5 separate regions of the Homo sapiens genome follow, and regions 1, 2, 3 and 4 are each linked to region 5. Evidence: fine-mapped expression QTL. A gene starts in region 5. Each other region holds a variant in brackets. All regions are shown on one strand. Distances are from middle to middle. Region 1 overlaps LOC105374894 (a long non-coding RNA gene). Region 2 overlaps LYRM4 (LYR motif containing 4). Region 3 overlaps LYRM4-AS1 (LYRM4 antisense RNA 1). Region 4 overlaps LYRM4 (LYR motif containing 4). Region 5 holds the start of LYRM4 (LYR motif containing 4).

Evidence for each region. PIP is the estimated chance that this variant, and not a neighbour inherited with it, causes the effect.
Region 1: its variant is the best candidate, but not a certain one, in a credible set for the expression of LYRM4 in monocytes after LPS (Kim-Hellmuth 2017, PIP 0.72).
Region 2: its variant is the best candidate, but not a certain one, in a credible set for the expression of LYRM4 in testis (GTEx, PIP 0.81).
Region 3: its variant is the best candidate, but not a certain one, in a credible set for the expression of LYRM4 in spinal cord (GTEx, PIP 0.71).
Region 4: its variant is the best candidate, but not a certain one, in a credible set for the expression of LYRM4 in caudate (GTEx, PIP 0.64).

What each region holds. Positions count from the first base shown.
Region 1 is chr6:4,550,217-4,555,320 of GRCh38, reverse strand. The region is part of intron 2 of LOC105374894 (a long non-coding RNA gene); the gene reads left to right. Among named protein-coding and RNA genes, the nearest start is that of KU-MEL-3, 58 kb to the left of the region's middle. The variant G/C (reference allele first, on the strand shown) is at 2,099.
Region 2 is chr6:5,173,845-5,178,948 of GRCh38, reverse strand. The region is part of intron 2 of LYRM4 (LYR motif containing 4); the gene reads left to right. All of the region lies in intron 3 of LYRM4-AS1 (LYRM4 antisense RNA 1), which reads right to left. Among named protein-coding and RNA genes, the nearest start is that of MIR3691, 28 kb to the right of the region's middle. The variant C/T (reference allele first, on the strand shown) is at 3,063.
Region 3 is chr6:5,096,351-5,101,454 of GRCh38, reverse strand. All of the region lies in intron 3 of LYRM4-AS1 (LYRM4 antisense RNA 1), which reads right to left. It also overlaps a transcript of LYRM4 not described here. Among named protein-coding and RNA genes, the nearest start is that of PPP1R3G, 14 kb to the right of the region's middle. The variant A/G (reference allele first, on the strand shown) is at 2,705.
Region 4 is chr6:5,134,516-5,139,619 of GRCh38, reverse strand. The region is part of intron 2 of LYRM4 (LYR motif containing 4); the gene reads left to right. All of the region lies in intron 3 of LYRM4-AS1 (LYRM4 antisense RNA 1), which reads right to left. Among named protein-coding and RNA genes, the nearest start is that of MIR3691, 11 kb to the left of the region's middle. RefSeq lists a silencer at 1-65. The variant G/A (reference allele first, on the strand shown) is at 1,935.
Region 5 is chr6:5,258,394-5,263,497 of GRCh38, reverse strand. LYRM4 (LYR motif containing 4) reads left to right here and starts at 2,548. Exons shown (of 3, transcript NM_020408.6): 1 at 2,548-2,850. The coding sequence starts at 2,765. FARS2 (phenylalanyl-tRNA synthetase 2, mitochondrial) reads right to left here and starts at 1,985. Exons shown (of 7, transcript NM_006567.5): 1 at 1,838-1,985. RefSeq lists silencers at 2,468-2,687, 2,748-3,057 and an enhancer at 3,268-3,317.

The DNA of each region.
Region 1 (5,104 bases), 710 kb after region 5:
GAGATAACTAATGTATGCATTATCTCACCTACTTATGCTTTTTGTGGTGAGATGTAACTTGATCTTAAACAACCTTCAAGACTCAGCTCAAGGTCTCTCCCCTCCACAGACCTGAAATCTAGTTTTCTGTCTTTCATTTCTAATCTTCTGGTTTCTCCAAATGGCTTCCTTTCTTAAACTCCTAATTTGTGTTATTTATGAATTCACTTTGCAATTCATCATTTCTGTCTTGTAAGTAGATTTTATGATTGCCTTGTCTTAGAGTGAACATATTTCAATGGGTATTAGTATAATGGAAAGTTTGTAAGCTCCCTGAGAGCAAGGATTTTGTACTTATTTGTATGCCCTAGAGCAGTGTTATTCATGCTGGTGTGCAGATCAGTGTCCATCAGCAAGCAAGATCTGAAATGAGAACACAGCAAGAGAGAATAAGAGTTGAGTAATGTTCCTAGTAACAGGACATTGGCATGGCATCCAAGCATGTGTCATGGGCTTTCTTTTATTAAACAGGGAATAGACCAGATTGGGTGCTGTTGAATTCTTGTGGTGAGTCCCATCTGGTGCAAACTGCATACAAGTCACTCATAGTAGGGCCACACATCACACTGCATGGATTGGGAATGACAGCAGCTGCACCTTCACCTTAGATAGTTTGGTCAGCAGCACCTGTAGAATGGAACCCTGCACACTGCAGGTGCTCCCAAGGTGCTAGTACATTGATAAACACTACAGATAGGACACATTAATAGCTGTGTTTTTCTTTTCTATCCTTGTATAAAAATCAGAAGTATTAATGTAGTTGCAATGCAAATTCAATTCACGTTAGGTATACAACCCAGATGTTACCTGGGCTACCCTGACCCTTAGGAACAAAATGGGCCTGTGGCTTATGATTCTCCAATTATGGAGAATCAGAGGTCTTCCTCGAGATTTTTTTTTTTTTTTTTTGAGATGGAGTCTTGCTCTGTTGCCCAGGCCGGAGTGTAGTGGCACAATCTTGGCTCACTGCAACCTCTGCCTTCTGGGTTCAAGTGATTCTCCCTGTCTCAGCTTCCCTCGTAGCTGGGATTACAGGCACCCACCACCACGCCCAGCTAATTTTTGTATTTTTGTAGAGATAGGGTTTCATCATGTTGGCCAGGTTGGTCTCGAACTCTTGACCTCAGGTGATCCGCCTGCCTTGGCTTCCTACAGGCGTGAGCCACCTCACCCGACTCTTCCTCGAGGTTTATGGAAGGCTTTGGTATGGGTTTTCCCGACCATGTCTTCCCCAGCTCACAGGGGGCCTTACTTCTACATCGCGCCATCCCATGCTCCCCATCGCCTTGACCCAGATGAGGGAGTTCAGCCGTTTTACTCATTTTCACAACTCCCCTTGCTCTGAGGTAGAAAAAAAAAAAAACTCTCACTAAAGCTTTTGTGTGGATAACAGACTTTGCTGAAGTTTGGGGGAGACAGACCAATTTTTGTTCCACAGAAGTATCATATTAAAAAACTCATCGCTCAAGCTTTTCACCACTTCTCATGCTTCCGGATGCTACTCAAGGGTCGAACTTCCTGCTCCTTCCCTCGTGCTCTCACCTTGGTCTCCTGTGGCTGACATAATCCATTCCTCTACCCTTTCCTGAGTCAGGCCCTCGACGAATGCTTTAATTTCCTCCCCAGGATGCTAGTGCAGCCATCGTCACTCACTGCCTAGATAAAGAAATTTGAGGCTGTATTAGTCAACCCGAAACTCTTGAAATCAATCCGACATTCTTTCCACATTTCGGCAATGTGCGCTGACTGCTCATGAGACTGTGGTCCTGTAAGAAAGAATCAATCCACACCTCACACTCCTTTCTGCTTCTGGGAGCTAATGCCGCCAGTGCAGTGATACATGGAAGTGAAATGCAAGCATGATTGGCTCCATTTACCACCTAGAGCCCCCTTCCCCATCCCATTACATTCCTATATAAGAATGGGGTGGAGTGATTTTTTTCCCCCATTATACGTATGAAAATCACCTGTCTTAAATGACTAGCAGACTCAGCTGCTCCTTTCTAAGGTGGGAATTCTCTTTGTCACTCACTCATTGGTGGTTAACATCCATGGGCTC[G/C]TGGAGGAAGAGAGAGATGGTCCGTGGTGGCTTCATTTGCAGAATAGTCTGAAGCTTTTTGGGTGTGGAGGTCACTCTGTCTTGCTATGTTCTGTGCTTTGACAATGAAACTGGGTCAATGAAAATTAGACTTACTGGGGCCTTCCCTTATTCTGTGGGGGCTGCTTTTCCTGCCTATTATCCATCATATTGATTTTTTGTTGCAAGACTTGTCTCTGTTATGTTTTCAGTAGCTAAGAGCCAATGATGCTGCCAATTGTGGCATTGTCAGAGAATCCAGGGAGCCGAGTTGTGGTCTAACAATAGGAGAAAAACCCATATAACACCGGGTGATGTCATGAGAGGTGGATGAAGGCCATGCTTGTGTCCCTAGAACTGAAAGTCTCAAGATGGGTGATCACCCTCTTGGAGCCAGAGGTCATTGATCCTGCTAATCCTTCCCTCCCAGAGGAGAGGTAGGGTGTGGAGCCGTGGTGGCAGCCATTTCCCAGGAATGGAGTGGCAGAGGGAGCCGAGGGGCAGCAGCAATTTGCCTCACCTTAGGGTGAGTCTAAGCCGAGAAGAAAAGAGGGAGGAGGAATGGGGGAAATGGCTACGTGTCACCAGGACTGCCATTTACTAGCGACCGGGGTAAGGCACTTACTCCACCTCTCTCAGAATAAACTCTTAAGTCCTATCCCCTACCTGGCATTTGCATTTTAAAAATCCTCAGCAGCTTCTTGGGAGTAGGTGGCTGGCACTTTGTGCCCAAAGTCTGAGAGAAGAGGAATATGTGAGCCAATTTCTGTGGTTTTGTTCTTGGGTTTTGTCTCATGTGACGAAGGCAGAGTTGGTGCAGCCAAGCTGGAGTAGGCTGAGGAGTTTGGAGGAGGTGACTTTTGAGCTGGTGTTCAAGCTGGAATAGAAGTTTGTCAGGCAGATACAAGAGAGGTGAGCAACGCTGGGCAGTGGGTACCACACATGCAGACTGATCGACTGACCCTAGTCTCTCTCCAGCCCAAGTGCAAGTGGCAGAGAACATTCCCTGCTGAGATTTTTGCAGAAGGAAGCAGGAATCACAGTGGCTGAGGTAAACTGAGCCAGGGTTGAGTCTTGAAGTGACTGTTTGGGATGCCTTCACTGCTGCCTTCCAGCTTGGGAGGGCAAAGCTGACCTTTTGGGGACTGGGAACGTGCTTAGCTGACTGGCCCACCACCACCTGCACAGTTTCCATACTTGTACTGGTCCGCAGGGCATTGCCTGAAAAGGATCCCGGGCTACACTGTTGTGTTCATTGACTTTGCAGGAATCCACGCATGCAGTTGCCAAAATCCACGAGTGGCAGGATACATTTGCAGGATACATTTGCAAGATACATTTGCAGGATACATTTGCAGGATACATTTGCAGGATACATTTGCAGGATACATTTGCAGGATGTTTTATGGACAAGTGCATCCTTTAGTCCCTGCAACTGAGGTGAGCCACATGTCACCCTGAGCCACTGTGCTTTGTGTTCAAAGCTCATTCATTCCTCCTCCCACTTCCTGCTGATCCTTGCCTTACCTCTGGCTGTCCCTGGAAGGTGGCTGCTTGTTATCTGTGACAGCCCAGGAAGAGGAAGGAGGAGAGGCAAAGCTGGAGAGGGGCTGGGAGGGAGGAGAGGAGGGAAACATCGGTAAACCCACCATTATGCACCTTGCAGTCCCTGGAGGGCTATCAACAAAGCTCCCTCCCCAGCTCTGCATCTCTCCCAGAAGTAGTCTCTTTGAGTGGGAGCAGCAGAATCTTTCTAAACCTCCTCAGGCATTATTATGTGGATCTGAGTAAAGAACCACCCTGTAAACCCACGGCAGAGCTATGCCATGACTCTGGCCTGTTAGGGAAAATTCTATAAACTGGCTCTCTCTTGAGTCACCAGTATCATTCATTCACAAGATAGTTTGGGAGCTCCTCCAGTGGTAAAGGCCCTGCAAACTCCTGGGGATAACATGAATAAGATGCTTCTGAGGGTCTTACTGTTTGGGGGAGGGTGAAGGCAGTGTGATTATTTCAATCTCTCAAAGTGTTCTGTGGAGTGGACTCTACTATTCATATTTGACAGGTGAGTAGCATGAGGCTTTGCAAGGTTGATGCACCCAAGACCACCCAGCTGATAGGTAAAAGAGCCAGAATTCAAACTCAGATCTTTTTGATTTGTAGTTCAAAGAGGTAGGTGAAAGAGATATTTACCTTCTTTGTCTTATGTGACAAAGTCAGAGTTGGTGCAGCCAAGCTGGAGTAAGATGAGGAGTTTGGAGGAGGTGATTTTTGGGCTGGTGTTCCAGCCGGAATAGAAGTTTGTCATGCGGATACAAGCGAGATGGGCACCCCAGGCGGTGGGTACCACACGTGCAGAGGTGGGAAAAACCAGCTGCAAGGTCTACCTAGGGCTGCCAAAGTCCTGCCTGGTAGGCGTGTGGGGTAACAAAAGGGCCTGGCACACCATTCTAAGAACAGGTACTTTCCTGAGGGTGTTGAGGAGGATGTGGGGTGCAGGGGGTGGTTAGAACGGTGTCTTTCAAAGATTCCCTGCAGATGGCACCTTGGCCAGGACACCCAGGAGACCCTTGGGTGCTTGAGAAGAAGTGCTGTCCAGTTAGGTGGAGCCCTAGGTGACTGGAGCCAGGAAAAGCCCCAGATAAGGGAAGCCAGGAACCCTAGGTAGATGCAGTCCCACCTGATGGAGCCCCAGTTAAGTGGAGTGGTGGTGAAGGCTCATGTGGGTGGAGTCCCACAGGGTGGACACAGCCCCAGGTGGGTGGATCCCCAGGTGATGGAGCCCCCAGGTGGGTGGAGCTCCAGGTGGGTGGAGCCCCAGGTGGGGGATTCCAGATGGGTAGATCCCCAGGTGGGTGGAGCCCCAAGTGGGTGGAGCCCCAGGTGGGTGGAGCCCCAGGTGGTGGAGTCCCACATGCTGGAGCCCCAGATGGTGGAACCAACCTGAGCCCACGGCCTCTCCCTCTGCACTTTATGAAATCGGGAGAA
Region 2 (5,104 bases), 85 kb after region 5:
TGCTTTATTCAGCTTTTGAAACGGTGGATTCAAACTGCCAGTAAACTTCTTTCCTTAAAAGGAACTCACTGTATTTCAACGCTTTGTAGCAGTGAGGTACAATCAGAGGAAACTCTTTTTTTTTTTTTTTTTTTTTTTTTTTTTGAGACAGAGTCTCACTCTGTCGCCCAGGCTGGAGTGCAATGGCGTGATCTCAGCTCACTGCCACCTCCGCCTCCCGGGTTCAAGCGATTCTTCTGCCTCAGCCTCTGGAGTAGCTGGGATTACAGGTGCAGGCCCGGCTAATTTTTGTGTTTTTATAGAGACAGGGTTTCACCATGTTGGTCAGGCTGGTCTCAAACTCCTGACCTCAGCTAATCCACCTGCCTCGGCCTCCCAAAATGCTGGGATTACAGGTGTGAGCCACTGCACCTGGCCTATTTCTGTATTTTTCATTCCCCGCTCCACCCACTACTGCAGAAAGTAGTTTACTTTTAGAAGCTTAATTAAAAAAAAAAAAAAAGAGTTATGAATCCCTAAACAATTTTTTTAAGAACCATGTGAGAATTCCTACATCCAGGTGTTAGCTTTCAAATTATTTGCCTTAGAGGGTCTGTCTGTTTATTCCAATAAACTTCCTTTTCAGAATGGCCTTCAGTTTTAGTTTATGATACACATAAGAAAATTGAGTAGTATAGTGGCCTCTTTCTTCATACTTGACTCTGAATGACTTTTGACTGTTACCAAAAAAATCTACCCTCAAAGGATGCAACTGCCAACACAGACAATATACAAAACAAAGTATGTGTGATTCAATAAATATTGAGTGCCTACTATGTTGCCAGGTGTTCTGCTAGACACCAGGGATATAAGATGAAAAGACAATTTTAGTCACTGCTCTTAAGCTGGTGACACTCTTAGGGGAAGACAGACATTCTCACAAGTAATTAAATACTTAGTTAAAAAAAAAATAGTGGCATATGTGGGTATAGTGAGAGCCCAGGGTGAGCAGTGGCTTTCAGAAATGTTTTAAACAAAGACGTCATCCCCAGAATGCATTATCCCCCAAGTTGGCAGTGTTGAGGAGCGCGTGAGGCCTAGTATGTTCTTGGAAAGAAATCTTTATTTCCTGAGAATCACTTCTCATCCCTGTATAAATGCATCTGACCTGTTTGTAAGAGTATGAAACAGACACTGCTATGTGTGATAACTTGTCCTCGAGCCCCTCAAACTCTTCAGAGAAGATAACAAGTCACAGCATCTTGTGACTCTAGTTGGATTTTTTTATTAGTCACGGAAATAACCTGGTGCCGTAAGGATACATTTGACAGCTGTAGCTAAAAGGATTAAAGAAAATACATAAATGAAAGATTCCTCAAGCCAGAGCGGCAGGACAGAAACAGCATGTCCTAACAAGGCAACGTGGGAGACTGGGTCTAGAGGTCAATTCAACAATGGTCACCTGAATGATCATTGTGTTGACACCAAGAGCTTGTGTCTCACTGAATGGTGCCCCCTAGAGAGGCAGGCAGTGCCTAGGAAGGGGTCATCCCGGAGAGCTGGGTAGGCTTTCCAGTCAGATGACTGAGTTCCAAGCGATTAAAATGTTTGGGTGCAGTACTCCTCCAAGGACATGCTTATCCCTAACTGTTACTGCATTACTAGGAAAACTTCTTTGTTCAGTCTGTAAGAGGACTGTGGCATTTGAGGACAGCCTTAAGAAGATATTAAGTAGCAGAGAATCTTCTACGCTCACCTGTGATTTCAGCAGTGGTCACACCTGTTAAGAGCAGAGTTCTTTTAAACACACGGGGAAGACACAGGAGGCCTTGAGAGTCCTCTGGCAGCTGTCGATGGTGCAACTGTATTCGCACTTTTCCATATTTTCCCTTCCTATTGGCATTCTCAAGTTTTGTGCACATGTATGACATTTACACAGTAGGGGATCTATTGAGATATTTTCAAACAGTCAACAATCCTAATCAAAATGTGTGCTACTGAAATAAGTTATTTGGAGTATTAAAACAAGTATCTTCCTGTGGACAACACTACTCATTTGTAATTATGTGATGGGAAGCTTGGGGAAATGTACAGGAGCTTTCAGAACTTATACTTCTGCCTCATGCCATTGTAGATGAAATTATATACTCACACTTTTAGAAATCTGAGATACACATTCACCAAAACTTTTAACCACTGTGAAAGAAACAGATAATCAGCTGTCATTATCCTTGTGTTCAAGATGAAGACCGAAACTTCATTTTCAAAGGTAACTCTGTCAGATCATAACATAAGCACACTTCCTTCAGTGCTTCAGGCCTCAGTAACAGCCAAGACTTATTTCTAAACCACACTGCTCATCAGGGTGCAGTCTATGAAAACTGCCCAGGAAACCTCCTTCCCATTGGTTCCTGAGGAGGGGAGGAACGGACAGCAGACAGGTGAGTACTCAATTTGATTATCTCAGGTAAAGCTTAGAACCCAGCAAAGGCTAACAGACAGTATCACTGGTAGCACCAAAGAAGCCATTTCAGATAATTTCTTAGTATTCCGTAGGCCTTAGTATACCAACAATCTGTTTCTACCACCTTAAAATTTAATAGCGTAGGCCAGGCACGGTGGCTCATGCCTGTAATCCCAGCACTTTGGGAGGCTGAGGCGGGTGGATCATGAGGTCAGGAGTTCAAGACCAGCCTGGCTAATATGGTGAAACCCCATCTCTACTAAAAATACAAAAATTAGCCAGGCATGGTGGCACATGCTTGTAGTCCCAGCCACTTGGGAGGCTGAGGCAGAAGTATAGTTTGAACCCGGGAGGCAGAGGTTACAGTGAGCTGAGATCACGCCACTGCACTCCAGCCTGGGCAATAGAGCGAGACTCTGTCTCAAAAAAAAAAAAAAATTAATAGCGTAATACAACCACCATTTTTGTTATAACTCACAGATTATCTGGGCCGGGAATGCTGATAGTGCACATGCTATCAGCCATAGCTGGGAAGACTGTAACACTGGGTGTACTCAAATGGCTGGGGTTTGGAATCACCCGGAGACAGGTCTGGTGCCTAGGCCAGGATCAGCAGCAG[C/T]TGTAGAGCAGAATGTCTGTGTGGCCGGGGCTTCCTCACATCGTGGTAGCCTCAGAGCAGTGCGACTTCCTACTTGGTGGGCAGAACTGCAGAGGAGAGTGTTCTGGAGGACAGAGCAGAGCTGTGTGGCCTTTTGTGAAACAGCCTTGGAAATATGTAGTTTCATTTCTGCCATATTTTTTTGGTCAAAGGAGTCACAGGCTCAGATTCAAAGTGTGGGAACATAGACCCCCGATTCTCAATGGCAGGGGTGTCACAAAATGTGTGACCCTGTTTTAAAACCACCACAGGCCCCCTCTCCTTAGTATTCCACTGGCCCTTTATCCTGGAAACCTCAGGAAATGGTTTTTCCTGATTTTCTTCTTTAATTCTCCTCTCCCATCCCTTCCTCAATCCAGTTCAAGGATAAGGGCCTAGAACTCCACCTGTGTCCTATTCCCTCTTGAATCCACAGGTCGAGCAGGAAAGTGAAGGATGAGGCTGGCATGTGTAGAAGTGCCAGTGGAGGGCGCTGTGGCTGACTAGAAGGCCTCTACGTTTTAAAGGACAGCTGTTCCAAACGGAGGTGGGAATGAAGTCCTTGTGTTTCCAGATTTCCCATTTTAATGTGAAATTAGATATTGAAATATTGCTTCATAATGTTTTAAAAGCATACCATGAGATCTGGGTTTATGCTCTTGTCTATGCACTGGCTCTGAGCCCCTCTTTGAAAGACCCAGAACTCATAAAACAAGGCATTATTTAAGATTGCACATTTATGTTTATCCCCAGAAATTTCCACATTGGGGTCTGGAATGCCATTGCTTCTTTAAATACTACTTACTTTAAATCATATTTGCAAAGAATTCTTGTAACTGAGAATCTAGGCGCTCAATAAATAGACCGCATCCTTCCTTCATCTGCACATGAATGGCAGCATTTTGTGCATTAATTACGTGTGTGATGTGTCTAAGCTGAATTGGCTGAGGAGCAGAACTTTAATGATTAGCTGTATAAAACTGAAAGAGAGCTTCAATTTTGACGTTAAGCCTTGCTTATCTTTTATATTCTCAGCCTTTCTCGACGTTTGTTAGAATTTAAACTTGTCCTAAGCATGACAACATCTGTTCAAAAGAGAGGGGGGATAATATATGTTTATATATACACACCTTAATTTAGTATTGGGGACCTTCCAGTTACCAATTATAAGTGTAAAGACTAAATAAAAGTTATAGAAAATTAGACAAAATAAACAGTGACCAAGAGAAGATTTAAGAAATCTGAAGCTAAAGATTTATTTTTCTGCCTGCCCTCCTTGAAGTAACCATTAAGTTTATAAATAGCCTCCTTCCTCTGAGAAGAAAGGTCCTAGTGACACCAAACAGGATGCGACGCGCTGAGTACTCTCCCCTTTCATTTTGAAACTCGAGCTTTTGTGAAGACTATCATTGTGCATCCGTCTGTCTCTCCTCATTACCACTTCTGGTTGGAGCCGGAAGCAGGACAGATGCATATAGTCCTCATTTCAACCACAGGAATTGACTTTAAAGGTGACACTGTCCTTAGTAACACAGCTGATGCCCTGTAGGGGTAAAATTAGTTGTGTTTTCTCTGTGCAGGTGAAATTTTAATGAATTTTTTGATACTCTGTAGAGCATTCACTGCAAAATGCGTTGTAAGCTCTAAACACCAACAGCTGATTGTGAAAGACTCTTTATTTTTTCTTTGCCCTAACTTAAAAAAAAACAGAGAATGTTTCCAGAGAATCTACTAAGGAAAACATCAGGTCTGACAACAAAAGAGAACTGAGAGAGCGAAGAGGAGGCAGCTTTCTGCACTTTGCACACTGGGTTGCAGTTCTCACAGAATCCTGGGGCTCAGGACAAAATGGAAGCTTCCTCCTTGGACCTGCATTTACCCCAGGCCTCGAAACAAAGCCCCCCAGTCTATAGTTTCCAGTGTCACTTCACAGATCTTTTCATACCACAGCAACCCATACTGCCAGGAATCTGCCTGTTGTCTCCAGCACAGCTTCCTATTGAAAGCAACTCTATGTCTAACCT
Region 3 (5,104 bases), 160 kb after region 5:
GCTATAAGGATTTTCAGTGCGTAACACAAAGTTCTTTCACGAGGTTTAATACACAGTAAGCAATAACTATTAGCTCCTCTGTCATTCCTTCTAGAAACTGCCAGATACCTTAGGGGATGAAGAAATGGACCAAACATGGATTCATCCCTTAATCACAGAACGTTTTGCGTTGTCCTTAAGACATGTATGTAAATAGCTGTACGAGTTCTGTAAATTCCCTGGGAGAGGCACAGATAAAATAGGGCTGGAAGAGGGAGGGAGTAATATTCAGAAGGAGGAACTACTTCTACCTGAGCCATAAATGCTAGGATAAGGGGTGTGGGGGTTATGTGGTGGGGAAGGGAGCTGCTATGCAAGGGAACAGCGATGTACGGCAGCGATGTGCAGTGGAGCAGCTAGGGAGAGATACACAGAGTGGCCACTGAGAGGGTAGGGAGACCAGCTAGGGCCCTGTGGCAGGCACGGAGACGTAAGGGGACTAGGGGCTGGCAGAGGACGGGGCAGTGTCTGTGTGGGTCAGATGGAGAAGAAAGAATGAATCCAAAAGGCATTTCCAAATGATGGACTTGATGAGCAATGGAGACACAGAATAAAGGATGGGGGCGAAGCAAAGATAACACCAGCACTTTGATCCTGAAAGACTGGCAGGGGGACTGCCCCTCACTGAAATAAGAGGCAACAGCACATCCCCTTAACAGGAACACACGTCCACAGGCCCACACCTCACTCATCGCTGTATGCCTGTGTTTTGCAGAGTCCTGGTTGCAGTAGAGACATTGGGGGTGTCAGCCAAGCTCACAGGAACCCCTTTTGATCCCTCACAACAGGAGTTGGGGGTTCTTGACCACCATTTTGCATCATGACCCCACCCCCACCTCTAACCACAGCTGATGGAACTGGGATGACACCTGTCCCCAAGTAGGCGAAGTACTTTCTCTTAGAACTAGGAGTGAGAGCTGCTGTTTCTGTCTGGGATTCTTGCTGGAGCTCAAGTGACACAGGCCTGGGAGGTCCAGAGCAGTCATCTTCCATCCATCATGTAGACAGGGGAGAAGAGAAATCCGCTCTGGAAGGAGAGACGTATGCAACCTCAGAGAGCAGAGATGAGGCAGGGACCGTTCCTGCTGGTTCCAGGGCTCCATACGTCCTGGCTTCCAGGCCCTGGAGAGGCCCCATGGCCCTTAGATTCCAGGCAAGAACCCAGCATCCATGAGCCAACTCCCCTCCTTGCTGACGCTGGCTTGTATCAGTTTCTGTAACTTGCAGTTTGGCACATGCTGGGTTTTATTGAAATATGGAGCCATATTGAGGCCTGCAAGAGGTAAGTTCCCATTTTTTAGTAGGTAAGTTCCCTACTGAGAAGGGGACCGCGTCCTGCTGAGTCCTGCAGAAGAGCCACGACAGGTCCAAGATGGTAAAGAGAGGGACACTGGCCTCTGGTCCAGACATTGACAGGTCTAAATGTCTAGGGCTGCATCCTGAGGAGAGACCAAGGAGGAGAGGAGGCACCCAAGCAAAATGTCCTTCCTGTGGATCAAGTGCAGATACGCTGTCTTCTCTGTGTGTGTATTTGTTTGATGAGTAGATGGTTCAGAGCAGTGGATCTGGGTCAGATTGACCTGGGTTCAAATCCAAGCTCAGGCTCTTACTTCCTGGCACATGACTCAACCTTTCTGACAGTCAATTTCTTCAGCTGTAAACTAGGAGTGATGTGCCAGGTGCGGTGACTCACACCTGTAATCCCAGCAACTCAGGAAGCCAAGGTGGGAGGATTGCTCGAGGCCAGGAGTTCAAGGCCAGCCTGGGCAACATAGCAAGACCCCATCTCAAAACAAAAGAAATAAAAAATATGAAGATCATAGAGACAGAATGTCATCCTGATAATTGACATAGGCTACAAGGAACAACATTAGAGTCAAAATTGGTTCTATCCCAGCACTTTGGGAGGCCAAGGCAGGAGGATCACTTGAGCACAGTAATTCAAGATCAGCTTGGGCAATATAGTGAGGCCTCATCGCTATAAAATATAGATAGATAGATAGATAGATAGATAGATAGATAGAGAAATAGATTTTTTTTTTAATTAGCCGAGTGTGGTGGCACGTGCTATAGTGGTCCCAGCTACTCGGGAGGCTGAGCTAGGAAGATCGCTTGAGCCCAGGAGGTGGAGGTTGCAGTGAGCCGAGATCATGCCTCTGCACTCCAGCCTGGGTAACAGAGTGAGACCCTGTCTTTAAAAAAAAAAAAATTATATAAGTATATACCTTCAACTAACCCCTTCAAATCCAAGGGAAACATGAGTCTGCAAAGCAGATGCACTGCCCAGATTGTAGCCCCCACTGGTACAAGAAGAGAGACAAGAAAGCCGTGACCCACCCACCCTCAGAACCTCTGAGAGATGCGCTTATGCCACCAGTCAGTGTGGACAATGGCTGTCACCCACCAAGCGGGTCACTGTGAGCAGCACTGGGGGTGTTGGTGGAGGGGAAGAGACCACAAATATGGGAAAAGTCCTCTCGGCAACCAGATGTGAAGAATAGGTGTTCCTCCAGCCCACTCCCCATCTGAGAGTTAGGATTGAGTAAAGTCATCCAGGAAAGTGGCATCACATCCTATGAGTACCTAACCAAGTGGAAAGCAGCCATTCCCCTCAGCAAGGGAGAGACACAGTTGGCAAGTGAGAACACCAGGGGTTCTGCCCGCC[A/G]TGGTACTGATGGGTGTGTGCCTCGGGTGATGTAAGATGAGGCGCGTGGACGTGTACCTCCCTCACCCGGTTCTGCCCACCCTGCCTCAGATGGGCTGTTGCAGCATGCATTGTTTCCAGCTTTTGACTATGACAGATAATGCCACCGTCAATATTCTTGTGCGTGTCTCCTGGTGCTCGTGTGTACACACTCCTGTACCTAGGTGGAATTTCGGATCATGGGGTTGTTCTGGTTCAGGAGATACTGCCAAACAGGTTTGCATAGGGACAGGCCCACTCCGAGGGTATGTGTAAATGGGTTTGCTCATGAGAATGGCATTGATGTGAAGCGGGGATCTCTGGGCCAAGCCTAGGATGAGAAGCAGCTCTCTGCTGTGGGCAGCCTGCAGCCAAAGGCAGCCTGGCCCTACATCACTCCCGAGCAGAGCAGAGCCACGTGCCTGCTGGGCCTGCCCTACCAGAGACTCACAGTGCCAACTTTGGGGAGGCTGAGGGTCCATCTGAATGAAGAAAATGCCATTTCCTTACATGTGTGGAGCTGGCTGGGTTCGGAACGGAGCAGGATGTGTAAGCGCAGAGACTATCTGTAGATGTAGGCGTGGAGTTGTCCGTATAAATTAAGGTCCAAGCTGGGTGCAGTGGTGCACCCCTGTAGTCCCAGCCACTCAGGAAGCCAAGGCAGGAGGACTCTGCCTGTCCCAGGAGTTCAAGGCCAAGCTGGGCAACATAGCAAGATCCTATCTCTAAAAAGAATTTTTTTTGTATAAAAACACACACCAAACAAAAAGAACAGACACCAAACAGGAGGCCCCTCAAGAGTAGCTGCTTTAGATCGGGTGGATAATCTCTGAAGAGGCTGTTGTAAGGAAACGCAGTGTATGTAAGTGATATTAGTGTATGTACAGCATGTGTATGATGTCGTAACAATGTGCATGCTTAATACACATCTGCGGTGGTTTGAATATTTGTCTCCCTTCATTGCTCCTGTTGAAACTGAATCCCAAAGTGGCAGTATTGAGAGAATGGGCCTTTAAGAGGTGATTGGGTCGTGCAGGCTCTGCCATCATGAATAGATTAATCCATTAATATATTAATTTATTGGCCGGGTACAGTGGCTCTTGCCTCTAATCCCAGCACTTTAGAAGGCTGAGGCAGGAGGATTCCTTGAGCTCAGGAATTAGAGACCAGCCTGGACAACATAGTGAGATGCCATCTCTACAAAAAATCAACAAAAATGATCCAGGTGCGGTGGCTCATGCCTGTAGTCCCAGCTACTTAGGAGGCTGGGGCTGGAGGCTGGAGGATCACTTTAGCCCATCACTTTAGCTGCCATGAGCCATAATCGTGCCACTGCACTCCAGCCTGGGTGACAGAACAAGACCCTGTCTCAAACATATAGGTATATTAGACTGGTGGCTGCCATGAGCCATGATCGTGCCACTGCACTCCAGCCTGGGTGACAGAACAAGACCCTGTCTCAAACATATAGATATATTAGACTGTTGGCTTTCTAAGAAGAGGGAGAGAAACCTGAGCAAGCCTGCTCGGCCCCCTCACCATGTGACGCTCTGCGTCACCTCAGAATTCTGCAGAGAGTCTCCACCAGCAAGAAGGCCCTCACCGCATGCAGCTCCTTCACCTTGGACTCCACAGTCTCCATAACTATAAGACATGAATTCCCTTTCTTTATAAATTATCCAGTTCCAAGTATTCTGTTATAAGCAACAGAAAACAAACTAAGAGCGTCCCACCATGTGGACAAGAAGCAAATGGATACTTTCTGCCCAGGTAACAAAAACAGTTTGTCTGGTTAGCACACTCAGGGCTACTATCATTTGTTCTCCCAACTGGAAGATTCAGTTATGCTTCCTACATTCAGCTGGAGCCAGACAGTGTTTATCCTCAGAATAAAATCAGCAAAAACCAAACTGGCAGAGGCCAGAGGGAAAAGAGAAAGATGTTGAGACCAACGGCTTGCTTGGCACTTCACAACTAACTTCCCTCAGTGCTCACAACAATCTATATTAGGCAGGAGTTACCGCCCCTATTTTGCAAGCATGAAAACTCACTCACACTATTTTAAGGGTCTTATCTGAAAGCACTTGGCTAGCCAGGGGTGAGCTGGTGGCAACTGCAGGCCTGGCTGTCCTAGAGCCAGTGTCTCATCCCCACACAGGCCACCTCCCCCATAGCTAAGGGTACTTCTTCACCAATGCTTTATACACTTCTCAGTGGTAGGGTTGGATTTTTGTGTTTGTTTTTTTGAAACAGTCTTGCTCTGTCACCAGACTGGAGTGCAGTGAAATGATCATAACTCACTGTGGCCTCTACCTCCCAGGCTCAAGCAATCCTCCTACCTCAGCCTCTCAAGTAGCTGGGGCTACAGGTGTGCGCCACTAC
Region 4 (5,104 bases), 120 kb after region 5:
ACATCCAGTTAGGTTACAGTTCACTGCATACACAGAAACCTTTAAAATATGTAAAGAGGCAGCTTTAGGCCAAACTTAATTTAACAATATCTTGTTAATATTAAACACAATCATAGCAAAAGTGTCGAAAACCAGTCAAGTGCTACTGTTTTAAATCGAGCCAAACATTAACTTTTATCTGATACTCCTCATTGTCCTACTCCAGTTTGTATTTGTAAATACAGTGTGACCTGTGTCATGAATGAACCTTAATATTCTGTTGCCTAACTTTGAATGAAGCCTGCGCCTTCGTTGGTCAGAGTTCTGGATATGATATGCTCACCATGTTTCCAGAGTTGCTGGTATTTCTCCAGTTAGCGAGGTGGAAATGCAGCGGTGCCTGGGAAGATCAGAGGCACTGGGCTGGCAGGCCTGCTTTGCCCTGCCGCTCACCAGCTATTGTCATTCAGAACAAGCTACTTATGCTCTCCAGGCCTGTCTTCTTCTCCCTACCGCAGAGATGTCAAAACCTATTTCCAGAGAGTGTTAACAAGGACGACATTCAATTACATCTACAAAGTACCTAGCATAAGTGCCTAGAACATAGTAGGTACTCAACGAACATCAATATTACTCTTCTTTTGAGATCAAATTCTCTTAGGCTTATGTGCAACAATCACTTTGAAGTCCTCTGATTGCTCGAAAGACTTTCTTTAAGACTTCAAAGTATTAACCTGATTGTGAAGAGCAAAATGTCTATGTCTAAAGGATTAATCTCATTTCTAGCTTTTAACCTGTCTTAAACACCTCTAGCACTTGCTTCTGTTTGAAATCCCAAAGAACTCTTTCTTTCTGTTAACTGTTACTCTTAACTTTTATTTTTTTCTCTTTTTACCCCCAGGCATAAAGTCCATAGTCATTGTCTGCCACCAGGTTTGTTTTCTATTGCATCTTGATATTTTCTTGTGTTTTCAGTGGGGAGCATGTTAGAATTCCTTAATATACAGATGTCATAGTATATAAGGTTTTCTTGTGACTTAGTCTGGAAATCATTCATAAAAAAAACAGTCATTATTCTTACTGGCTACTGATAAAAATTCTTTAAGTAAGAAAAACTATCGATTTTTTTTTTTTTTTTTTTTTTTTTTTTTTTGGAGACAGGGTCTCACTCTGTTGGCCCAGGCTGAAGTACAGTTGGCATGATTACGGCTCTCCGCAGCCTCAACCTCCCCAGCCTCAGGTGATCCTCCCACCTCAGCCTCCCGAGTAGTTGGGACTACAGGCGTGTGCCACCATGCCCAGTTAGTTTCTGTATTGTTTGTAGAGACAGGGTTTTGTCATGTTGCCCAGGCTGGTCTCAAACTCCTAGGCTCAAGCAGTCTGCCCATCTTGGCCTCCCAAAGTGCTGGGATTACAGGTGTGCACTACCACACCTGGCCTTTGAATATCTTCTATATATAAAATCTTGGCAGAAATGTCTTCTTTTGTCATCATGAAATTTACTTTCATGAATCCTCCTCAGTGCCCCTTGTCTACCATTAGTCTTTATAGAATCCTTTTTGACCTGCTGAAAGACAGCACCATTGTATTTTTCTTTGCAACTTGTGGAGCCACCACCTTCCCCAGTACGTTTTGACCAAAGGCAAAGTGAACTCTGCACCACCTCAGGCCTCTGAGTAACACAGTGGAAAGGGGTGAGAAGACTTGGCTATTGTGGTTTGCAAAAATGGCAGGATGAATGCTCCATATCCTCCCTCAAAAATACATTCACATGAGGATAATTTGGGTGGTGGGCCACAGGCAGCTTGCAAGGACAAAGCCTGTCAACTCTTACTCCAGTGTGTGACCTGAGTGGAGATGTCTACAAAAGAGCAGGAATCCTGTCTTTGAGAATAGGGCAACAATCAACTGGGTGGTTTTAATTATTCAGATAGAGTCACAGGACATTAGATGCA[G/A]AATATTAAAATCTCCATCATTCAGGGGAAATGATCTTAAATACAGATAGAGGCATATCACTAGCCGGGTAGCAGAGTCATTATTTAAAGGACACTAGAGTTCCTCTGTGAGGAGGAACTGAGCTCAAAGAAGATGTTCAGTATCAATGCAGTGAGATTACAGAGTACAAATCTGAACACCTTTGTAAGCTTCTCACTAAGTGGAGGAGTGGGGCCAACTCCAGGAGCTTGGTTTTTGCTTGTCTGAGAATCTCTTGACAGGTCCTAGAAGCAACCATTCTATGTTGGGGCTTAAAAAGAAGAGGTAGTGTGATCCAGCAATCCCACCCCTACATGTATACTCAAGAGAAATGAAAACGTGTCCACACAAAGACTTATATGCAAATATTTATTGAAACCTTATTAGCAATAGCCAAAAAGTGGAAACAACCCAGATGGCCATCAGATAATAAATGGATGAGCAACATGTGGTATAGCCATACAATAAAAATATTATTGGTGGTAAAACGGAACCAAGTACTGATACATGCTAGAACACGGATGGCCCTTGAGAACATTATGCTACGGGAAAGAAGCCAGACACAAAAAGTCACGCATTGTGTGATTTCGTTTCTGTGAAATGGCCAAAATAGGCAAATGCATCGAGACAGAAAGTGGGTTAGCGGTTGCCAGGGGCTAGAGAGGATGGGACATTTGAAAGGCGACTAATGAGTAGTGTTTCCTTGGGGGTAATGAAAATGCTCTAAAATTGATTGTGGTAATGGATGCACAACTGTGAATATACTAAAAACCATTGAATTGTACACTTTAATTGGATAGATTTGATGGTGTATGAATTATATCTCCATAAAGCTGTTAAGAGACATCAGGAAGAGACCAGAGTTTCTTCTGTGCGGAGCCCTCTGCCACAGGAAAGGAAGGAAGTCTACCCAGTCTTCCTACAGGCGCTGCTCCTTGGGGCGGTTTAGCATGTCATTACCACAGACTGTGGCTAGGACCTGTGGGACTCATTTGTAAATGCCACCTTCTTTGACAACACCTGGGATTGTTGAAATGGAAGTAATCGATTACTAGAAGCCATTAATTGAAAGCTGTGTGCCAGGCATTGTAGTAAGACATTATAAATACCATCTAACTTATGTAAAATTGACATTATCCCATTCTGTAGGTAAGGAAACTGAGACTACAGGGTTAGGTGAAACCCAAGGTTTCGGAGCCAGTGATTGGCAGAGCAGGTGTTTAAACCAGGTTTGTCTTGGGACAAACCCCAGGCTCTTAAGTACTACATTATCGTGTCTTCCCGCTTCTCCACCCTCAACCCAGCCCCAGTCAAAAAGGCAGCAGGAAAGGGGACAAGTTATCATTTAGAAGAATACTGATTTGGTTTTAAAAGTATTGAATAGAATGACCAAATGATCTAGTGATTCCATTTCTCAGTATATACCCCAGAGAACTGAAAGCAGGGACTCAAAAGGATACTTGCCCACCAGTGTTCAGAGCAGTATTATTCACAACAGCAACCCAGTGTCCCTCAACAGACGCCTGGATGAACAAAATGTGGTACAGCCGTACAATGGAATGTTACTCAGCCCTAAAGAGGAAGGAAATTCCGCCACACGCCACAGCAAGGGTGAACCTTGACGACATTGTCCTAAGTGAAATAAGCCATAGAAGAAACAAATGCTGTATGATTCCACTTACGGCGGTCCCTAGAGTCCCCCTACAGACGGAAAGTAGAATTGCGGTTGCCAAGGACTGGAGGGGAGGGAGAATGGAGAGTTAGTGTTTAATGGCTACAGGGTTTCAGTGGAGGAAAATGAAAAGATTCTGGAGAAGGATGCTGTTGATGGTTGTACAACAATGTGAATGTACTTAATGCCACAGAGCTGTACACTTAAAATGAATAAAATGATAAATGTTGTGTTTTGTGTATTTAACACACACACATACACATCAGTATTGTGTGTGTTTGAAAGTCTAGAGCTAGAAAGCTTTTTTGAGTATATTTAGCAGGAAAACTTAAAAGAAAGTTCTCGTCTTTGGAGGAGACAGGCCTGAGGCATCCAGAGGAAATGAACACCACCTAGGGAGCCAGTTCCATTCCCATGAAAATCACACCTGGAGCGATCCGCACCCTCCACAGCCCCAGGAGCGATCCGCACCCTCCACAGTCCCGGGAGTGAACCGCACCCTCCACAGCCCCAGGAGCGATCCGCACCCTCCACAGTCCCGGGAGTGAACCGCACCCTCCACAGCCCCGGGAGTGAACCGCACCCTCCACAGCCCCGGGAGAGAACCGCACCCTCCACAGCCCCGGGAGCGATCCGCACCCTCCACAGTCCCGGGAGCGATCCGCACCCTCCACAGTCCCGGGAGTGAACCGCACCCTCCACAGCCCCAGGAGCGATCCGCACCCTCCACAGTCCCGGGAGTGAACCGCACCCTCCACAGCCCCGGGAGTGAACCGCACCCTCCACAGCCCCGGGAGTGAACCGCACCCTCCACAGCCCCGGGAGAGAACCGCACCCTCCACAGCCCCGGGAGCGATCCGCACCCTCCACAGTCCCGGGAGCGATCCGCACCCTCCACAGTCCCGGGAGTGAACCGCACCCTCCACAGTCCCGGGAGCGATCCGCACCCTCCACAGCCCCGGGAGCGATCCGCACCCTCCACAGCCCCGGGAGCGATCCGCACCCTCCACAGCCCCGGGAGCGATCCGCACCCTCCACAGTCCCGGGAGTGATCCGCACCCTCCACAGTCCCAGGAGTGAACCGCACCCTCCACAGCCCTAGGAGTGCCGTTACCAAGGGAGAGGAAGGAGAAGGAATAGGGATGAGATCTCTTAAATAGACATTTGATGACATTTTCCCCAATTTGTTAGTTGCAATGACGAAGACTTTTTGCTGTTTAACCTGTTATTATGGAAAAATGTGAAAATATACAAAAGTATGTAGAATTGTCAAATGAGTCCTGTGTATCCATCACCCATCTTTAAGAGTTAGATACTCTGTAATATCAATAGATGGTATTTTTCATCCTTACGCCTACCCATGCTCTCCCGTATTGTTTTGAGAAACTGTGTATTCGTTTTCATATTAAACTATTTTGGTACATATCTGAAAAGATGATTCTTTTTAAAACATAGCTATGATACCGTTATCATAACTAA
Region 5 (5,104 bases):
CAAAAGTGAGATGTAGCTACGGAATGATTATTTTCTTTTAGCCTCTCCAGGCAATGATGTCCAACACATTGGTAAACCATTTTAAATAAAATAATAAGGTATTTTTATGAAGACTTGGCTCAGAATTAACTGGGAAGCCTATCACTTTCCTAACTGCAACCATTGCTCGTACTAACAGAGGACTAAGCTACCCAAACTATTTAAACTATACATATTTATTTGGAAAAGTTTTATTTGATTACAACAAAGTTGAGTAATTTAGATACATTAATTATGTACGTTAATGATTAAATTCCTTGATAATTAGGTAGAAACAATTGTATATAGTAATTATTCCAACTTTACTCTCAAAAGCAAAATATAATAAAATAATGTAATCTTTGCTATTTTTAAAAAAGCCAAAATAATCTTCAAGTTTTTCCTTTTCACTCTGATAGCATTCTCTATCAGTAACTTGCATTAATGTTGTAGCTTTGAGGTGCCGCATATCATTTCATATCACTGGCACACAATAGTGTATCAAGAGAAATCAGCTCTGAATCTTACTCTATAACAATGTGCAATTGCCTTGGTCTTGGATCCTTTAAGAAATAGCAAAGGGAAAACTCAAAAAAGTCCTTTCAATAAAGCAGAGGCTAGATTTGCTCAATGACCTGACCAACCAGGAAGTAATAGAAGTTTTGCTATCCTGTTTAAAAAATAATAATAAACAATAACAGACATGAGATTTTCAAGAAATCAGGGAGGAGACTTAAAGATATCTTAATAAAAGTATTTTCTCTTCAGTGCCTTTTAAAAAATGTCATTGCATCAGGATTAGTAAGAATATCTGGATGCAAGGACACCAGGTTGCAAGTACACTAAAGAATGGTAAGGTCAGAGAAGTGTTTTTTCTGCCTTTAAAGTTCCTGAAAATAGAGGCTGGGCGTGATGACTCACACCTGTAATCCCAGCATTTTGGGAGGCCGAGGCGGGCGGATTGCCTGAGGTCAGGAGTTCGAGACCAGCCTGACCAACATGGTGAAACCCTGTCTCTACTAAAAATACAAAAATTAGCTGGGCGAGGTAGCGCGCGCCTGTAATCCCAGCCACTCAGGAGGCTGAGGCAGGAGAATGGCTTGAACCTGGGAGGCATAGGTTGCAGTGAGCCCGAGATCCCGCCACTGCACTCCAGCCTGGGCGACAGAGCGAGACTCCATCTCAAAAAAAAGAAAAGGAAACAGAAAAGTTCCTGAAAATATAAAGTTGTTTAGACATACAGCAGGTATATCGTTTCAAAACCAAATACACTAAAGCAGATGAGAACACAACCGTGACCAAGTGGTTCGGAGAAAGATGGATTTTAATGCAAAGTTGTTTTGTTTTCACGCATAACGTACTTCTCGCTGTGCTTGAGTGCAGAAAGGTGTGGTTCTTCCTAAGGTTGATTACATAAAGCAAGATTCCAAAAACAAGAAAAGTGCTTTGCAAACACAGTAACTAGGACTGGCTGAAGCTTCCTGCGTCCAGTGCCATGCTCAAAGATCAGAACAAGCAACTTTATCCACCACTTTAATAAGATGATTCAAAAAAGCTGCAGTCTTCTGAAGAAAGCCATGGTTGAAAACTTGCTCCGCTTCTTGGAGAAAGCCTAAAGCCCTAAAGGTCTCTAATTATTCTCCAAAGTCTACAACCCAAGCTGCATTTTATGCATTTATTAGGTTACAAAACCACGGGAACTCTTCACTCAAAAGCAAAAACACATCCGGAAAGAGGAAAAAATCCACGGCCAATGTAAACCCCCTACAACACCAACCGCCCACGTCGTACCCCAGGCTGCAATGAGGCCGGCACTCACCCACCGCTCGCCCGGGAAGCCCAGACCCAGGTGTTTCAAAATCAGAAGTACGGCAGGCTCGTTCGCTCTCACGGGCAAGAATCTTAAACCCCAACTTCAGAGATACCCGCGCACGCTGGGCGCTGCCATTTTGACAGAAAGCGGGCCTGCCCCAGAGGCCCCTACGCAGGTCGCCCTGAGCAGAGCCGGAGTGCCACAGAACCCCTAGCTCATCACCTCCACACCCAGACGTCGCATCCCCCGGCCTGAGGAATGCCAAGAAACCCCACCCTGCCGACCAGGATCAGGCGAAATCAAGTCACCCTTGAAATCCCGCAAACTCTCTCAGGCAGCGCCGAGGGCGACCGCAGCCGGCGTGGGAGGGGCATCGGCGGTCAGGGGCGGGGCGTCGGTGCGGCGGCCTTCGGTAACCCGGGCAACGCGGCCTCCTGGATGTAGGAAGGGGCGCTGCCCCCGAAACACAAATGTCTCCGCCAAGACCCCAGACGGTTCCCAAAGGCTCTCCGTGATGCAACTGCACGTCCCTCGAATGCCTGGGCCTCCGATATCCGTCCGCCAGGAGCTTGGCTGGATGCACGGGCGGCCAGTCCTCTTATTTCCCCGCCCTCCCGCCGCGTGGAGCGGCTGCTGGGTCCCGAGCCTCCGGGCGGGGGCGGGATCGGGGCGGGGCGGAGGCATCTCCCTCCCAGCACCGCCCCCTTAGCTGCCCCGAGCCCTGCCTGCGCCCGCCCCCGAAGCGGCGCGGGACGCCTGGCGCCGTCCGCGATCCGCAGGGCTGCCCGCTTAGGCTTAGGCCCGGCCCGCTGGCAAAGCCGAGCCGCAGCATTTTATTTCGTTCGTGGTTTCCGCACAGGCTGGAGTTTCGTGGGTTGGGTCGTACTTGGGACCTCGGCGAAGAGGACCCGTTTATTTTTTTTTCTTTCCAAAATGGCAGCCTCCAGTCGCGCACAAGTGTTATCTCTGTACCGGGCGATGCTGAGAGAGAGCAAGCGTTTCAGCGCCTACAATTACAGGTGACCCAGCGGGCACCGGGGGCCGGGGGCGGGGGGCCAGGGGCCGGGGACCGGGGGTGCGGGCTGACGCGGAATATCCCCGGGGACTGGGAGCCACCGTGGTTTGCCGGCGGCTGCGAGGCAAGGACCGGGCTCCGCCATCGAAAAGCGTGCTCCTGCCTACAGGTGTGGCCTCTGAGACCTCGGGGAGGAGCCTTTCTTTCTACCAGGGGAGACGTTCATGTCTTGTGACGTTTTCCCCCTAAAGGCTATCTTGGTAGTTATTCTAGGAGCATGATTAGTGTTATGTTTCTGCAGAAGAGAAAAAAGGGATGGAAATCAGTCATTTGTGAAGTTAAGGCCAGTGTGTTGCATATGTAAAACTTCCCTTGAGCACTGGAAGAGTTGAGAGTGGAAGTGGCCAGTGAGTAGTACACTGCGACAAAGCTGAAGGCACACTCTAGCACCTCCCTAAAATTTCCTAGGTGTCGTAATGAGTTCTTTTGGTTGCAAGAATCCATTCTATTTAGGGTATGGTGGAAATGCGTAGCGGAAAAGGAAAAAGGGTCTCACAAGCTTTGGAGCTGAAACCTCAGTTTCTCCTGGCTCACCAGACAGAGATCCCGCTTACTGGACCTTGACAGCAGGATATTGAGGGCCTAAACTCACATCTTTAATATAACACATTCACTTTTTCTCACGCCTCCCCACTCCCCTATTTGCCTATGAGTCTTTTATTGTTACTCTTTGTATGTTTTTTCTAATTCAGAGCCTCTGCTTTCACAGTGTTGCTGGTTCTGACCCATCATTTTCTTATGGATTCTCTCTCTGCATTTTTTTTTAGATTTGTTTTTTGTTTTGTTTTGTTTTTACTAACTACCTGTCTCTCTCTGAGTTTGAGCCATATTCCCATGAGAAAGAATCTGGTTGGATCAACTCATCTCTTTACCTCAAGCCTCACTTAGGTGACTGGCCAGACTGTGGATTGGATGTCATAAGAGCAGAGCCTACCCTTGGAACACACCTGGTTAGGTAGGCCCCCCTCCAGCACGTGTGTGAGCTGGCAGGCCCTGAGATGGGTCTGCCCAGTACAACCTCTGTCAGAGGACAGGAACGCTAAGCCTCTTAAGCAATGACTCTCAAATTTTTAGAAACCCGCCTGGAAAATATACTCATGCTGCAAATTTGAAAACAGCATCTGGGTCATACCACTGAGGTTGTATCCACCCAGTTAAGTGGTTAAATTTCACGGGAGAGAATGATTTTACTTAATGACTTTGACTTTGGAGAATAAAGAGTGTAATAATAAGCATACTGGTGGAATTTTAGCAAGAATTAACCAAACACCTAGCACCAAGTACTTAACCAAGTCTGTTGAGGAAACACATGAAATATGCAAGTTAAATAAATAGAAACCATTTGATTTCACCATAGTCTGGAGTAAAATAGTTTGTCATTAAAGCTTACTCAGGATACACAAGGACTTGGAATCAGCAGGCAGTTCACACACTAAGGAAAGTGGCAGGGAGAGGGTTTATGTGAGAGCATGTAAGAAAGTCAAGGTGGAGCCCTCGAAGACTAACTTGGACAAGTCTCTCAATCTCTGTATTTCAGTTTTCTTGTTTATGAAATAGACTGTTGGACTAGACAATCTCTAAGGACCCTTCCATTTCTGAAATTCTCTTTGGAAATGATTTATGAGCAAATGAGGCCCAAGCGTTTTCAAATGAGTAATTGCCAACTGAACAGGAAAATCATTCACGAAACTCAACAGGAAAATCATTCAAACTTTAGGAAAATCATTCAAGACTCTACCTGAAAGGCAGAAAATTGAAAATGGGTTTCAGTATGGGCAACTGTAAGATCATATGCATTCAGAAAATAATTGATCAAATTATACCTTAAGCATATACTTTTAAGCTAAATTTACTATCCAAATATAAATATATTATCCAAAGGAATCTGATAATCATTTTATACTGTTACCTGAGATCATAGACCTAAAAACCGACATTCCTGCTATTACCTCCCTAGATAAACTTACTTGTTATAAAAATACGTCCTTTTACATTAAGGCTGTGTCTTGTGAATTTCAGGAAAAGTCCCTTCCCTCCTCTCTAATCTCTGCAGCTGTTTGTCACTGATGGCAAATCAATAGCAACACAACATCCACTATCAATTCTGTGTGCCACTGCTATCTTATGTTCTTCATGTCTATTAACACATTTGTTTTGACAATAATCTTGTGAGGTAGGTACTATTTGTATTACCCTGT